Linked DNA regions of Homo sapiens: region 1 is linked to region 2. A link means that fine-mapping ties the variant in region 2 to the expression of a gene that starts in the linked region. Tissue or cell type: whole blood. Region 2 holds a variant in brackets; the other region holds the start of a gene. All regions are shown on one strand. Distances are between the middles of the regions. Region 1 holds the start of BNC2 (basonuclin zinc finger protein 2). Region 2 overlaps BNC2 (basonuclin zinc finger protein 2).

Region 1 (8,337 bases), 28 kb before region 2:
TATTTTTAGTAGAGACGGGGTTTCACCATGTTGGCTAGGCTGGTCTCAAACTCTTGACCTCAAGTGATCTGCCTGCCTTGGCCTCCCAAAGTGCTGGGATTACAGGTGTGAGCCACCATGCCCAGCTAGATAATTAAAATATTTACCCAGCTATTCCAGTTCTGAGGTGCAGGTGGCTGGAGCCAATCTAGACAGCTCAGGGTGCAAGGCAGGAACCAACCCTGGACAGGCCATCAGTCCCTGCAGGGCACACTCACACACACTCACAATCACTCACACTGGGACCATGTGGATACTCCAATGAACCCAAGGGGCATATCTTTGGGATGTGGGAGGAAACTGGAGTATCCAGAGAAGACCCATGCAGACAATGGGGAGAATGTGCAAATGCCACACATACAGTGGCCCTGGCTGGAATCAGTTTTTTTTTTTTTTTCTCAGCCTTGTAACAAAAGGACGTTGAATGAAACGACATTGAATGAAACGATGTTATTCAAGGACCTGCAGCACAGTTGTTTCCCTTATGGAGCTTCCATTTTAGTTGAAGAAAAATAATAAATATATAAACTAAGAAGACAATTTCAGATATTGATAAGGGATAGAAAAGGGATACAACAATAAGTAATAACAGGAAGTATGAGGGGTGTTTTGAGTGGTGGGCCAAGGGCTATTTAAACTAGAGTCTGCAGAATTGCTATTAGAGCTGAGATATAAATGATAAGAAGGAATCATTGGAAAACTTGGGAGAACACTCCAGGTAGAACAGCAGGGACAAAGAGCAGGAAGGAGCTTTGCAAGTTAGAGGAACAGAAAGGAAGCCAATGTGACTTGAGTGTAGTCCACCATGGTAATGAACAAATGGTATAAAACAGTCGAAAAAGTCAGGCAGGTTTAGATAATTCAGGTCTTGCAGGATACAAAAAGGACTTAAGGTTTTATTCCAATTGCCATACAGACCGCTAGATGAAATGAGACTATGGAATCCTCTTAAATGCTAGGCTTTGCTTCCTCCTGTAAATTCTTCCACCTTCTCCAAGTGCTGCTCTTCAGCCTAACACATGCCCCATTTTTATCATGATGACTCTCCAGAAAGGCATGAGATCCCAAACAGACGCATCTTGCCTCACATAAATTGTTTGTTATGCTAACGTCAAAAACAGACAGATGTGGAACCAATCAGGGGAATGTAAATTACAGGTCGCTTGATGTGGAGTAACTTCTGCATGTTGGTCAGTGTAGGTGCGCAGCCAAAAATGCACTGTGTGAATACAATTGTTTGGCAATTGCTGATCTGTCACTTGTCCAAAGCGGTAAGTGTGTGAATGGATTTGTATAGGTAATGATTCTGAAATTAGCAACTAGCTTTTCTCATCTCTCCATGATGCAAGAAAAACATACTGGAACTTGGCCCATTTCTGGAAAATTCTTGTGATGATCCTCAATTTTTCAAAATGCACATTTGGTCATCATTATCCCTTGTGTAATCAGTTTCTGCAAACTACAGGATGATGTTAGTTATGTTTAGAGAATAAGGGAACATGCTCTACACCTTAATCAAATCATTTAAAGATGAGCCTTCTTAGATAACACACATTTAAATATATATATATATAGATGGTCGTTGGGAGATCTAGTCTATACTTTGATTTATGCTGTAGTGAGAGAAGTAATCTTGTCTTTCATTGGAAACCTGCAGATGCAACCTGTCCCCAGAACTCTAAGGTATTTACGATAAATAATATGCGAGAAGTGTTTACCACACATTTTTCCACAACAAAATGATGCACAGAATCCACGAATGCAGAAATCTTTGAAAGGGCCAGGAAACAGTCAGGAATTTGGACCCAATCAGTATAGGGAACTGCAAGTGCGTGTTAAAAAGCTGGATCCACGTGAATAATAAGCCTAATCCCATTTTCTTTCTTTTTTTTTTTTTTTGCAGATGGAGTCTCCCTCTGTCGCCCAGGCTGGAGTGCAATGGCACGATCTCGGCTCACTGCAACCTCCATCTCCCGGGTTCAAGCAATTCTCCTGCCTCAGCCTCCTGAGTAGCTGGGATTACAGGCGCCCGCCACCACAGTTGGCTAATTTTTGTATTTTTAGTAGAGATGGGGTTTCACCATGTTGGTCAGGCCGGTCTCGAACTCCTGACCTCAGGCGATCCGTCCGCCTCGGCCTCCCAAAGTTGGATTATAGGCGTGAGCCACCGCGCCCGGCCACCTAATCACATTTTCAAGACAGCTGTGGCTACTTGGGACTCTCATCAGCGGCTCCCGAAAAATTTAAAAAAATCAGTTACTGTGAAAATTTATATTAAACTAAGACCGGACTCTGCAAAGAAAATAAAACCATGTAATTCCAAGGCTACATATTTTCAAAGGAATTTAATTCTGTCCTCTGAATGCAATTAAGTAGTCTCTCTCTCTCTCTCTCTCCGTTTGAGGAAGAGAGAAGGGAAGAAGGGATGATTCTCACTTTTCACTAGGAACCGGTAACCATACCTGCTGTTCTGCCAAGTCTTCGCCGATTCTCTGATTTCTTAGTGCTCAGGGAGTATGCTTGAAACCTATGCCTTCCTCCCATGTTAGATAACCAGAAAGTTTGCTGTAGTTATGATAAATCTGCATAACTCGGAGATGTTTTTGGCACAAAGTGTACGTTAGTTAGATGATGATGATTAAGCTCCCCCCCCACCCCCGCCCCATTCTTGCGGCCGGGGAGTGTGTTTTGCCTGTATTTAAGAAATATCGTTCAGCTGCAGGCGTGTGCGCGCTTAGGCTGTAGTCGGCGTTTCTGAGTCTCCAGGGCAGGGTGACTTGGGTCGGCTGAGTGTCACCCACAGATGTGACTGTTCTTTCCCCCGCGGGCGCGACAGCCTCCTTCCTCTCCAGCCCGAGGCCCGCGGCCCAGACCACGGGAAAGGGAAGGAAGCCCTCGCCGCAAGCCGGCGTCTGGGCCGGCACAAAACGCTCCGCCACCAGAAAAACTTTTTTCCCCCAGCTGCGCGCAACTTTTGGCCTTTTCTCCCAGCACGTTCGCGTCCCAGGTTTCTGTCCGCTGGGTTTTCCTCCGCCTCACTCGCCTTCTCCCCAGCGGCGCGCGGAGGAGCTGGGCTGAGAGGGTCGCGGGGAGCCGGGTCGGCCGCGGCTGGGACGCTGGGGAAGGGGCAGGGGAGGAGGGGGCGTGCGGGGCTGGGGAGGAGGAACTGGTCAAAGGGGACAGAGACGCCCGAGTGCCCGAAAAGGAAAGAGCTGCCGCGGTTTGCTGCAGTCGGAATAAAGTTCGCGCCCTTTCCTCGGCGTTTCGCAGCCTCCTCTCCTTGCTCCGCTCCCCACCCCCGCCCCGCAATTTTTTTTTGTGTGTGTGTGACAGCTGGGCGCTAGCGGCCACCTCTACCTCCACGCCCGCAGCTCCCCGGGGGGGGGGGGGGGCGCCAGGGTTGTTTTTCCATCCCCACAAAGTTGTTTTTTCCATCCCCAGAAAGAGAGAGCAAGAACAACCCAAACAACAAACAAGCCCCCAAAGAAGTCACGGGGCGGTGGGGGGAGGGAGAAACATACATCCTCCTTCCCCAAGCCCCTGGACCTCTGAGGACAAACAACACAACGACCGACTTTTATTTTGCAAAAGGGAAGCAACATTGTAGTCACGACAATTCTGCAGAGAGAGGAAAAACTTGTGGGGCTTGCACGGCCGCCGAGGTCACCTCGCCCGCCGGTCCCCCGCCTCCCGCGAGCAGGGCAGCCCCCTCCCGGGACAAGCCGTTCCCTTTTTTTTTTTTTTTGTCCCGAGGAGGAGCCGGGGAACCGTGCCGGCTGGGACTCGGGGCGCGAGCGCGACCCCGGCGCGAGTGTAAATCAGTCACCTGAGCGCAGAGGGGCCGCGGCGAGGGCGCGCGCGGGCGGGCGGGGAGGCGGAGGCGGCGAGAGCGGAGGCCCGGAGGAACTCGGAGGGGGAGGGAGAGAAAGGCCGAGACGGAGGGAGCCAGCGGCGGCCGAGGGGCTGGTCCAGGCGCGGCCGCTAAGAGGAGACCAAGAGGCGGGGGCTGCACTTGACAACCAGCATGCCGAGATGGTAAGAAGTTTCCACCCTCCTTCCTCTTTTATTCTAGACTTCCTCAGAAATGACCCCCGCGCCCGAGCGCCACCGGGGCCGCCCGGGGGCCGTGTCCGCCCTCCGGCCCGCGGCGTGAGGGGCAAGGGGCGCTGAGGAGGGCGGGCCGGGGACCAGAACCCCGGTCCGACCTGATCCCCGCTGCGCTCCCAGTGGCCTCCCCTAAACTTGGCCCCAAGTTTCTGAGGCGAGCTCTAGGTGGGAGGGTGCACGTGAGAGGGGGCTTCTCAAGGTCGGCCCCGCTCGCGGCTTCCGCGCGAAGGTGAGCGGCTGGCTAGGGGAGGCTCCAGGGCGTTGGGGACGGGCTGGGGGGACGAGGTGGAGGGGAGTGGGGGATGAATGGAGCGCTGGCAGGAGCTCGGGGAAGAGAGGAAGGCGGCTGGGACCTACGGGAACTTTTACAACTTGCCGCCGAGTGAGGGACCGGCGGCTGGGCGTGGGTGCCGGGTGCGCTGGGGCGCAGCCGCCCGGGCCCGGCACGTTGACTCTTCCTCTCCCCTTGTCTTCACATTCGGAATCTTCCCGTGGTAAATGGAGATGGGAGGAAATGCTCCCGCAGGCTTTACGGAGAAGGTGCAGAACGCAGGGCAGGAAAATCAACCTTGCAGAGACGGCTCTTTTCGAAGTGCAATTCTATAGGAGCCGATTTGTTTTACTTGCACGTTGACTGGAGGGTGGGATTTGGGGCCTGGGGAGGGAGCAGAATAAAAAATTATATATGCTGAAAAACCCTAGGTGAAATCTCCTGTGAAGTGAGTTTAAGGTTGAAAAAAAGTTCCAAGTGCAAGTGGTGGAGGAGATGGGCTGGCTTTGCCAAGCGAGACTCCAGCACAGCCCCTCTACGAGAAGCGACTTCTTTGCAGCGAGGAAGCGTGCAATTAGTTCGCCTGGTGATGAGCCGCTCTGTCCGCTTTCGGGGAAGTGATTTGTTAGAAATGGGGCTTGACCACTCCCTTCTTTTTAGTTTGCTTCCTCCCAGCGTCGCTATTGTTACCCCCACTTGGGGATCTGACATGGTGTATTCCGTATATAGAGGGAACATATGAGAATACAGGTGAGATAGCGGGTTGGCATTTTTTCCTCTTCCCTGCTCCCTAATGTGACATCTCTTGTTTCAGTGATCAAAGTCACAACTGGAGTGTAGGAGATGGGACTGTCAAATGCAGGGGCGCGTACACACACACACACACACAAAAGCAAGAGCCCAGGACTGTGGTTACAGTAACGCTGACAGAAATTAAAGTGGTTTTGAAAGCAGCGTGCGATTTATGATGGTTCCCATTTACCCTAGAGTCAAGCTGTTGTAAAACTGACGTACAAAAGACATCATAAAATAATCCTGTGTACCCAGGATTAAAGTGGCAAAAAGTGGCCTGTTTTATTTTTATATACTTCGTGGACACTTGGAATTGTTGAAAGCCGTGTTTAAGTGAGACATCACAACAATATTAAATATATCTGTTTAGAGCTTGAGAGTTTTTCTTCTAACGGGCGTTTTACACAAGAACACTGTAAAAGCCGGTGGCAGGTATTATTTTTCTTCCCTTTACCCTAGCCTATGTTAACTATTTGTCTACACATGTATTCCTATATCCTAATGACTTTGAACTGTGGCTAAGCCTGTCTGCCTTCCACTGCTTTGTATTCTGCAATTTCACGTGTTACTGTCCACACGCATACATGCTTTAAATGGGAGGAATTTATTTCTGGCACGTTACTTAGTGTGTCTGATCTGAAGATGTACCCTAGTAGTGAGACCTTGTACAAGTTAACAGAACATTTACTTTTTGGACAAACACACACACACACACAATCCCTTGTGAGCCTTTAGAGAGTATCTGTGTTTTATATTTGTAGCCGTTTCATGTAAACTGTTCAGTCTTAATGAAGTTCTTAGTTCCCAGAGTGCGCTGTATTAAAAGTCCAGATTGCTAATCACTTTACCAAAGTACAGGAGTATCTTTACCTGAGGGAAGTAATAACGAGCTTGAACCTGAACTTTGTTTTGAGTATCTTTTGAGAAAGGTCTGAAACTTTTTTTCCTCTTGAGAATATTAAGTTGGGTGGTGTTTGCATGTAAGACTTTGAATAAGAATAAACTGTGCATTATATTTTACAATTAATATTAGGAAAATGTTAATAGCAGTACATTCCTACTACCTGATTTTTTCTTCTATTTGAGATGTAAGATATCTGTCAGATAGAGATATGTGATTACAAAAAGAAGCAGACAAAAGCAGAGCTGACTATTGCTATATTAAAATGTAAGTGTTACAGTTTGAATTTTCAAGTGAGAGTTCTTGAGTTCAGTGCTTTACATAACATTTTGTCCTAATCTTGCTTGCTGTCAGGGATGTTTCATGGTTGTGCAATTGCTGCAGTCAAGAATGCCAATTTGCATTCCAGGAGTGTCATTTGATTACTTTTATCTGCACAGCTCCAAGACCGGCCCAGACCTCTCGTTTCATCTTGCCATGTCACGAGTCAATGCTGTGTCGTCTTTTCAAAAATCTGCCTGATTTAGACAAGAAAGAAAAGTACTTTCATGTTGCAGCCGCAGTCCCCTGCTAACTTGTCAGCAGCAGGATATGATTCACTTGGGCCCAGAAGAATGGAACAGAGAGGCGGGTTAGGCGGTTCAATAAAGCCCACGGACAGGTAGTGTGTGACATCCCCAGAGAGCCGCAGTTAATGAAGAACAGGTCTGCTTAGTTCTCCACACGCTGACCTGGTGCTGTCCCCACAGTTTTCTCATTTGATCTTTCCCAGCAAATTGATCTTTTCTTGTATTTTTTTGCCTTCCAAGTTAGTCCTTGTGGGACTGAAATTAGCAGAGCAACTTAAGTTGGATAATACAGCTGTTCAGAAAAGAAGAAATTGGACACTGGCTCAAAAAGGGGTGGGGGTGGGGGGGTAGAGGGAGCTATTCTTTTTGTTGTTGTTCCTGGGAATATTTCTTATATTAAGGGAGTCCAAAATAGATGATGACTTGAAGTTAGTGGTTTCCTTTACTTTTAATTTTACAGTTAAGGGTTCAGCACGGTTTTAAATATTCCTTAAGTATTTGAAAGATGGCCTTAGTGAATATGAGGAGTTCAATTTAGTACTGTTCACATTCACTTGTTTGAGATGATTTGCCAGTTGACAATGTGGCTTTTATGGTTATTGTAAGATGGCATACTTCAACTGTATTATTTATAGTCTTCTAAACAACCTACGATCCCCAAATATCCAATACTAAATTGCAGGTAAGATTAAACAATAAAAAAGTCATTATACTAGTATTGTGTATAAATACTATGGTACATGAAAATGTTTTCTATACTATTAGCATCTTTGTTTTATATAAACCCCACAGATACAGTTCATGAAGTGTTTTTTTCCTGAATTTTTGAGATTCTGCATTTAAATGTAGATTTTTAAAACTGAGACCAGACCACAAGTTTGAATTTCTGTGGATGTTCATACATGTTGTTGTTTTTTGACATTAAAATTAATTTTAGACAGGATGGGTAAATTTATGTCGTATGGTTTAATCTGATTAAAGTTTCACTATAGAATTCTGTACATAAAGCTTAGGTTGGAAGCAGTTTATAGATTCTTAACTTGATAAATATATAAGGAGCAACGCTTTCTGATTTACTCAGCAGATGGTCTCATTTACCATCTACATCCTTACAAGAAACAGAGTGGAAAACATTTCTTGTGGAAGGGGAGGTAGCCTCCTCAAATCTTTCCTGTTGGATGGGAATTATATAGTATCATTGGTTAGTAAAATCCCCTCTGAAGAGCTAGAGGGAGCCTCATGATTTTATTAGATATACTTAAGGTTTAAAAAACACTCTGGCCATCAGAATGTTGCACAAAAAGAGTAGGTAATGAATACTGGCTCAGTGTTGAGGCTGGGAGGTGCTATTATGGTTTTTTTTTTTTTTTTTTTTTTAAAAGTGACAGAAGCAAAAGAACTTTCTACAAGAACAGTCAAGGCGTCAGCTAAGCTTTCTAGGCTTTTGCCTTTCAGGTGATTTGAAGATCAGGCAAAATGCAACCAGATACTATATTTTAAATGTTTTGGTTTGACTAACTACTGTTTGTAGTTTTTGTCAACTGAGGGAGTTACTCTCGTTTTAGGAGGCCAGTCTTCAGAGTTCTATTAAAAGTAGCTTCCTACGAAATCACCGAGAAGTGGGTTAACTTCTTTTAGTTTATGAAGGACAACCCCTT
Region 2 (8,337 bases):
TTCAAAGAGAAATACGATGACTTTTCTTATTAATGAGCAGACCTTTTGGGCTTTGCTTAAGGAAATAGTGAAAAGATTGTACAGTTCTGTTATTGATAATGGTTTAGAATTTAACACTGAAAATGCTGGATTTTCTTTCCTCTTATTAAGTTAATGTATTACTTTGAAGCATCTTTTCTTTTTTTACAGTTAGAAATTCACCAAAACTATATTTCAAACGTAGCTCTTTTTAATTTTATACTAAATTAATTTTTTTTTTTTTTTTTGAGACGGTGTCTCGCTCTGTCTCCCACGTTGGAGTGCAGTGGCGCGATCTGGGGTCAGTGCAAGCTCCGTCTCCTGGGTTCACGCCATTCTCCTGCGTCAGCCTCCGGACTGCAGGTGCCCGCCACCGCGGCCAGCTAATTTTTTTGTATTTTTAGTAGAGACGGGGTTTCACCGTGTTAGCCAGGATGGTCTCAATCTCCTGACCTCCTGATCCGCCCGTCTCGGCCTCCCAAAGTGCTGGGATTACAGGCGTGAGCCACCGCGCCCGGGCCACTAAATTAGTTTTTATAAATTCTGCATTGTTTCTGTCATATGGTAACTTAAGTATGCAGAGGCATTGAACTTGAACATTTTGTGTTCTGGAACGTGGGGTTTGGATTCTTGGTATAATTTTCCTATTTTATTTTTATTTTATTTTGAGACGGAGTCTTGCTTTGTCGCCCAGGCTGGAGTGCAGAGGTGCGATCTCGGCTCACTGCAAGCTCCGCCTCTCAAGTTCACGCCATTCTCCTGCCTCGGCCTCCCAAGTAGCTGGGACTACAGGCCCACGCCGCTACACCCGGCTAATTTTTTGTATTTTTAGTAGAGATGGGGTTTCACTGTGTTAGCCAGGATGGTCTCGATCTCCTGACCTTGTGATCCGCCCGCCTTGGCCTCCCAAATTGCTGGGATTACAGGTGTGAGCCACCGCGCCCGGCCAATTTTCCTATTTTGAAAACCCAACTACCGTGGTTTCTTTCTAATGCGTATATTATGACTTGTAGCATTTGAAAAGCTCCATGGTCTAGGCCATGTGACTTCTGAGGACTGTAACTGTAAAAAAGCTGGTGTTGAATAATTAAAAACTCCCTCCATTTTAAAAAAATGCCCATTTCTCTTAGAATTTTTATGGTGTCAGTCAAATTAATGCAGGTATGTTTGGTTTTAAGAATAACATGATAGAAATCCGAATTTACACTGATAGGCTGCCTAAGAGAAAGTTATTTCAAAACATGGGGCATCCTGGCAGTGCCTGGGAAGGTTGGCCCCCAGCCCGACTGATAGGAACTTCCTACTCATCAGTTCGCTGTGAAGTACTGACAGGTGGAGGGGGTTTAGGCTTCTTTGGGTTCTGAACCTGGTGATGCTACTACCTACACAGTGTTTGGAAATCTTGGGCGATGTTTTGTTTGTCACAAATGACTCAACTGGGGGGCTGCCTCCTGCTATTTAGTGGGTCAGGGACACTGCAGCATCAGGATTGCAGAACAATTTACATACAGTGATGAGTTGTTCTGCCCCAAATACCAATAATACCTTTCCCAGAAATGACTGGATAGTTATTGATATAAAAAAATGAAAAATGGCTGGGTGCGGTGGCGCATGCCTGTAATCCCAGCACTTTGGCCAAGGCAGGTGGATCACCTGAGGTAAGGAGTCCGAGACCAGCCTGGCCAACATGGTGAAAACCCGTCTCTACTAAAAATACAAAAATTAGCCGGGCGTGGTGGCGGGTGCCTGTAGTCCCAGCTACTCGGGAGGCTGAGGCAGGAAGAATCGCTTGAACCTGGTAGGCGGAGGTTGCAGTGAGCCGAGATCTCGCCACTGCACTCCAGCCTGGGTGACAGAGCGAGACTCCGTCTCAAAAAAAAAAAAAAAAAAAAAAGAAAAGAAAAATATTCGTAAAAATACTACTCTTGCTCCCCATCCCTAGAATTACCACCTGACATCTTTTTTTTTTAAAGGAATGTTGATTTTTTTTAAGGTGTGTACTTGATTGAACACTGAATTCTACTTCTTAACGTTTTTAAGTAAACATGATTTGTAAAGGCATATGGATATTTTATGCAGTTGGTATATTAATAGTATTTAGTCGTAAGCCCCCAACTCAAACCCAGATATACCCGTTTTTGCAAACACCCATCAGATTTTGTGTCAGTGTTTGGTAAACTAGCACTTAAAATGTGTGTTGAAACTCCTGTCTGTAATTTTTTTTTGTAACGTAAAAAAAAAAACTTATGAGAAATTGCTAAACTCTTATAAGATTTATTATTATTATTTTTGTAGAGATGGTGACTCACTATGTTGCCCAGGCTGGTCTTGAACTCCTAGCCTTGAGCTATCCTCGTGCTTCGTAGGTGTGAGCAACCGTGTCTGGCCAAAAGATTTTTAAATGAACAACAACAACAACAAAAAACCTAAGAGTAAAAACCAGAATTTGATAAAAACAGATATTTCACATACTCGTTGCATCCTCATGGCATTATCAGTTCTGGCATTTTGACTTGGAAGAAAAATTCTAACATGAATTTCTGCTTGAATTCTAACATGAATTCTGCTTGTTTTCAAATACTATTCAATTGGGAGTAACTGTTTGATGAAAAGCGTAGTACCTAAACCTCTTCTCCTTCCACACACATTTGTAGTCTTACATGGTAAACCTAAAGTAGCTCAGAAACATTTACTAAAACCCATTTACTTGGTAATAGATTTTTCATTTATAAAAAAGGAGCTTAAGAATATGTAGGCTGGGCATGGTGGCTCACGCCTGTAATCCCAGTACTTCAGGAGGCCAAGGCGGGTGGATCACTTGAGGTCAGGAGTTGGAGACCAGCCTGGCCAACATGGCAAAACCCTGTCTCTACTAAAAATACAGAAATTAGCTGGGTGTGGTAGTGTGCACCTGTAATCCCAGCTACTCTGAGGCTGAGGCAGTGGAGGCTGAGGCTTGAGCCCGGGAGGCGGAGCTTGCAGTAAGCTGAGATTTTTGCCACTGCACTCCAGCCTAGGCGACAGAGCAAGACTCCGTCTCACACACAAAAAAGGAATGTATCTTAGTGTACACCTTTCGAACGACCATAAATGACATCTCAGTACTATCTAGTACAAACAGAATTATAACCCTGCCCTTTTTAAAGAGTATTGGCTTTGGAGTTGTAAAGACCTGAATTTGAATACTGATTCTGCTACTGAATATGGTAGAATCTTGGGCAAATTCATCTATCTCTCCATCAGTCAATTATCTATCTATCAAATCTATTTTTAATTATAGTAAAAAACAGATAAGATTTACCCTCAACTTTTTAAAGTGTACAGTTCAGTAATGTTAAATATATTCATATTGTTGTTTCATTAAAAAACTTTGAATTTTGAAATAAGTTCAGGCCTTCACTTGAGGTTATGAGTTTGACTCCAGCCTGGCCAACATGGCGAAACTGCGTCTCTACTAAAAATACAAAAATTAGTTGGGTGTGGTGGTGCACACCTGTAATCCCAGCTACTTGGGAGGCTGATGCAGGAGAATTGCTTGAACCCAAGAGACAGAGATTGCAGTGAGCCGAGATGGCACTGCAGCAAGACTGCACAGAGTGAAGGAGACTCCAAAAAACAAAGTAAAACAAAACAAAAATAAAATAAGTTCAGGCTTACACAAGAGTCAGAAAAAAAAAATACAATGAATTCCTATATAT[C/A]CTTTAACCAGATTTCCCAAATGTTAATGTTTGCCATGATTGTTCAGTTTTTAAAATGGAGATAAAATTCACCATTTTCAAGTGTATAGTCACTGGTTTTTAGTATACTCACAAGGCTGTGGAACCATCAACACTATTTAGTTCTAGAACGCTTTCGTCACTCCACAGAGAAACTCTATCCTCAACAGTAAATCCTCCATTCTCCCTCCCCAGCCCTTAGCATCTTTTACTTTTTGACCCACTGTTTTCTATAAAATAGGTATAATAATATTTATGCTGGAGTGTTTCTGAGATGACATATGTGAAAATTCCTAGCATGGTATCTGTGTAATGCAAGTGCCAAACACCCATTCGTTTCTTTTTCCTATCACAGAAACAGAAAGTATCATACTTATATCTACATGAACTATTTTGGAAATTCTAATGCCAGCATCTTTTCTAAGTGAATTTCTCTTACTAGTTTGGTAGGTCAACAGTTTGCAAGATACTAAAAATCATAGTGGAGGTTCATATGTTAAAATAACATAAGGCAAAGCAGCTTCAAAACTCCAAAAAATATGTGCATTAAATAATGTCTTGCAGGCCGGGTGTGTGGCTCACGCCTGTAATACCAGCACTTTGGGAGGCCGAGGCAGGTGGATCATCTGAGGTCAGGAGTTCGAGACCAGCCTGACCAAAAGTGGTGAAACCCTGTCTCTACTAAAAATAGAAAATTAGATGGACGTGGTAGTGCATGCCTGTAATCCCAGCTACTTGGGAGGCTGAGGCAGGAGAATCACTTGAACTCGGGAGGTGGAGGTTGCAGTAAGCTGAGATTGTGCCATTGCACTCCAGCCTGGGCAACAAGAGTGAAACTCTGTCTCAAAAAAAAAAAACAAATTTGATAATAATGTCTTGCAGACATAGGCTTCGGAAATACATCTTTTGCAATGGGCAGTCATCATGCATGCAGCTCTTTTCATGGATTAATCTTTTATTTTGAAGTATTTTATCTTTTTTTTCACGTTTTAAGTGTTTAAACATTTTCAAACTTTGTATTTTTGATTTTATAAGAAGGCATGGTGAATACCACAGTGCAGTGAAACCACTCAAGGATCATAAGGGTTCCATTGTTAACTTAAATGACCCACACAGACCTTATGCCCTGGTTTGATTAGCTTTTGATGATATGATGGTTTGATTATGGACATACAGTTTAGCCAGGATATCTACATTTTGAGGAATAATTAGTTACAGTTCTGATGGCCTCACAACATTTTTACAAATGTTTTCTAAGTATTTATAGTGTAGTGGAAGTAGCATAGGCAGTGTAGGTATAGAAAGCGTCGGAGTCCTGAGTTTGAATCCCAACTATGCTGTGGGAAGTTTGACAAGGGACAGAATTTCTTTAAGCCTGGATTTCCTCATTTTTAAATATGGAGGGTAATAACTGTCATTGCTTAGGGTTGGAATGAGAATTCAATAAGACATAGTTTGGGTAAGGATCAGCACAGTGCCTGACAAACAAAAACTCATTAAAACGGTGGATATCTTTCAGATTTGCTTATGTGTTGTTTAAAGAAAGGACTCTTTTGCCCATTAATTTGTGACCTTTTTATCTGCCTAGAACATTGCCCATGAGGTCATTTCTGCCCGTGAAGTAGAGAACTACAGTGTTCAAATGTGGAATCGGAAGAACAACGAAAATACTAATTACCCTAGCTGAGAGGTTATAGTGGTGGAACTGGTGGGATTTCAGTCAAAAAAGCTGATTTTGTTAGATACAATATTATCTACAGTTAGGCCTGTTTATTGTGGAGTGGCCAAAATATGTTATGGTATTTAAAGAGTAGTGAAGATATTTTCCAATCTGAGTGCATACATGTGGTAACCCTTCTCTGATGAGCAGTTGTAGGCTCATTTGACATTAGAACTGCTGAAATAACTATGATTGAAATGTTTATTTGGTGTCAGGTTTATAAACATTGTACTTGGTTTCTGTGGCAGGTAACAAGCATAGGAATACCAATTTTACCCAGTCCCTTGACCTGGTAATTCTTTTTTGCTTTTGGTATATCTTACCATCTAAGTTCTTGAGTCTTAGTGACAAAACTGTATAGTGTTTGTCACAGATGTGCGTATTTGGAAAGGCATACAACCACTGCAGTATTTTTGCCATCATGACATTAAAGGAAAAACACTTGTGATAGGGTGAATAAATACTTCTGAGCAGAAGCAAAGGTCAAGCTTTAGAGTGAACTTTTGAGTGACAGCTAGTGGCTTAAGGGGGAGACGCCATGTTAACTATGGGCATTCATTAACTGCGTGGATATGAAATGGCAGTAAGTTCTCTCCCCTTTTATGCCAGGGGCATTGGATTCTGTAAAAGCAAAAGGGAGAGGAGCGTATGTGGCTGCCAAAATGAGATGGTAAGAAGTTAAATGATCAGGACACAGAGAAATTAAGGAATAGTAAGGTTTAGTGGGTATGTGATAAACATTGCAGATAGGCTCTGTGGTATGGACCAGAAGGCACAAGGTCTGGATTTTTTTCTAACCCAGACTCTGTCACTGACTGCCTGTTTGATCTTTGTAACTTCTTTGGTACTTCTTTAGACCTCCTTATCTGAAGTTAAAGATGTAAAACAGTAAAGATGTAAAGAGTAAGTTAAAGATGGAAAACAGGTTTCAACTCTTATCAATATTGATAGATTGGTAAAGGCTATTGAGAAGAGAATCCTGCAGCTGTGTCTTGCTTGGGTCATTGGAAGGAGTTCTGGGATTAGTTTAGCAGTTTCTGGTGACTGTCATGGGGTGGTGGTGGGTGTGTGCTTGCAGGCATGCATGTTTGTACGTAGGTACATGCACCACACCGCATTGGTTGACTAATCATTTGTAAAAATCCTTTTCAATTCAGTCTATATATTGGAAATTACGTTTTTCTTGGCTGTAAGGTTGAGAGGATCTTCTAATCAGCCTTTAATTTTTCTGACTGAAAGCCAGTGTACTTCTAGTTTTGGGAGAGAATTACGTGCTATAGAGCTGGATGCCTAATAGGCATATAGTGATGGCGCCTAAGAAGGAATGAAATCGTTGGTCCGAGAGCTAGAGAGTGCGCAGCGTGCTTTAGACTTGCATGGGGTTCTCTTCTAACCTGCATATCTGTGTGAGTCAAACATAGTAGGTCCTTTCAGATAGGTAATCATCTAATGAGCCACAGTTAATTAAATGTTTATCATTGCTTAATATTTGGTATAGGGCATTTTATTTCTATTCTAGGATAGCTTTCAAAACTAGTAATTTGGGCAGTATTTTAGTACTACATAGAAGGAAGACTGGTACAAAATGGGTGATGGCGTGTAACTTTTACCGTATTGATACATAGCATAATATAAACATGGCATTAAAAGATGCATAGCCTTAGCAACGAGTGCTAGTTATGATTGGTTGAGCAGTATTGAAAGCAACTAAGATTACTTTCAGATATGTATATTATATACAAACTGTTGCAGAATTATTGCTTCACTTTTAAGGAAAAGAATCCTTAAGTTTCTAGTGTCTTTTATCTGAGAAAATTATCCAGAATTGTTAACAGTTTAATCCACTATGTTGGAAACTCTGTTAGAAACTTTTATGTATCAGCTCTTTCTGCAAGGAGGAATTATTAAGAGCTAACTTCTGTTAGCTCACCTCTACTGACTAGTGAAATTAGTAGTTTTCTTTCACGTGTGTTCCTTAAGAAACTGTATGTAGCAACCACATTTGTGGCACACATAGACCAATACAATAGCCTTTTTGTATTTCTTTGTATCTTTCTCAAGTACTATTAATGTTGTCCTTACTGTGGGTCAGGAGTCATGTTTTACTCATGTTGGAATCACCCAACCTAGCATAAGCCACGCATACAATAAGTACACTATAAATAATGTTGAATCCATAGTTGAAATACAATTTTACCTAAGAGCAACTGTGAGCTACCAGGTGAAGATCATGTCTACTTTGAAGTCTAAGTTGGGGAATCTGAAAACACTGGATTTACCATTATGCAGTTCATATGTGGTAGTGTGATGTGATTCTGTGGTGATCAGTTTTTACAGTGACATCCACAGAACTAAAACATTTGAGGTAACAACTCGCATTTCTTTTTTTTAACACGGAGTTTCGCTCTTGTTGTCCAGGCTGGAGTGCAATGGAGTGCTCTTGGCTCACTGCAACCTCCGCTTCTGGGGTTCAAGCGATTCTCCTGCCTCAGCCTCCCGAGTAGCTGGAATTATAGGCATGCGCCACCACACCCAGCTGATTTTGTATTTTTTCTTTTTAGTAGAGATGGGGTTTCTCCATGTTGGCCAGGCTGATCTTGAACTCCTGACCTCAGGTGATCCGCCCGCCTTGGCCTCCCAAAGTGCTGGGATTGCAGGTGTGAGCCACCATGCCTGGCCTGCTTTGTTTTTCCTGTAAAAGTCTATCTAGAATTAAACTGTCAGTATGTATTTGTACATGGAAAAAAATTCCAAAGAAACATTTTTGGTTAAAAATATGTGGTAGGTTGAAACTTGTGTACAGTGTAAATATCGCATTATGTATGCCTTATTTAAGTAGACCTAAATACCTGGTAGCCTGAGCCATCAGACTTGCATAGCTCC

Evidence for each region.
Region 1: it holds the start of BNC2, and the variant in region 2 is fine-mapped to the expression of BNC2 in whole blood (TOPMed, PIP above 0.99).

Annotation. Positions count from the first base shown.
Region 1 is chr9:16,866,383-16,874,719 of GRCh38, reverse strand. BNC2 (basonuclin zinc finger protein 2) reads left to right here and starts at 4,050. Exons shown (of 7, transcript NM_017637.6): 1 at 4,050-4,074. The coding sequence starts at 4,072. RefSeq lists an enhancer at 6,087-7,286.
Region 2 is chr9:16,838,069-16,846,405 of GRCh38, reverse strand. All of the region lies in intron 1 of BNC2 (basonuclin zinc finger protein 2), which reads left to right. Among named protein-coding and RNA genes, the nearest start is that of BNC2, 28 kb to the left of the region's middle. The variant C/A (reference allele first, on the strand shown) is at 3,717.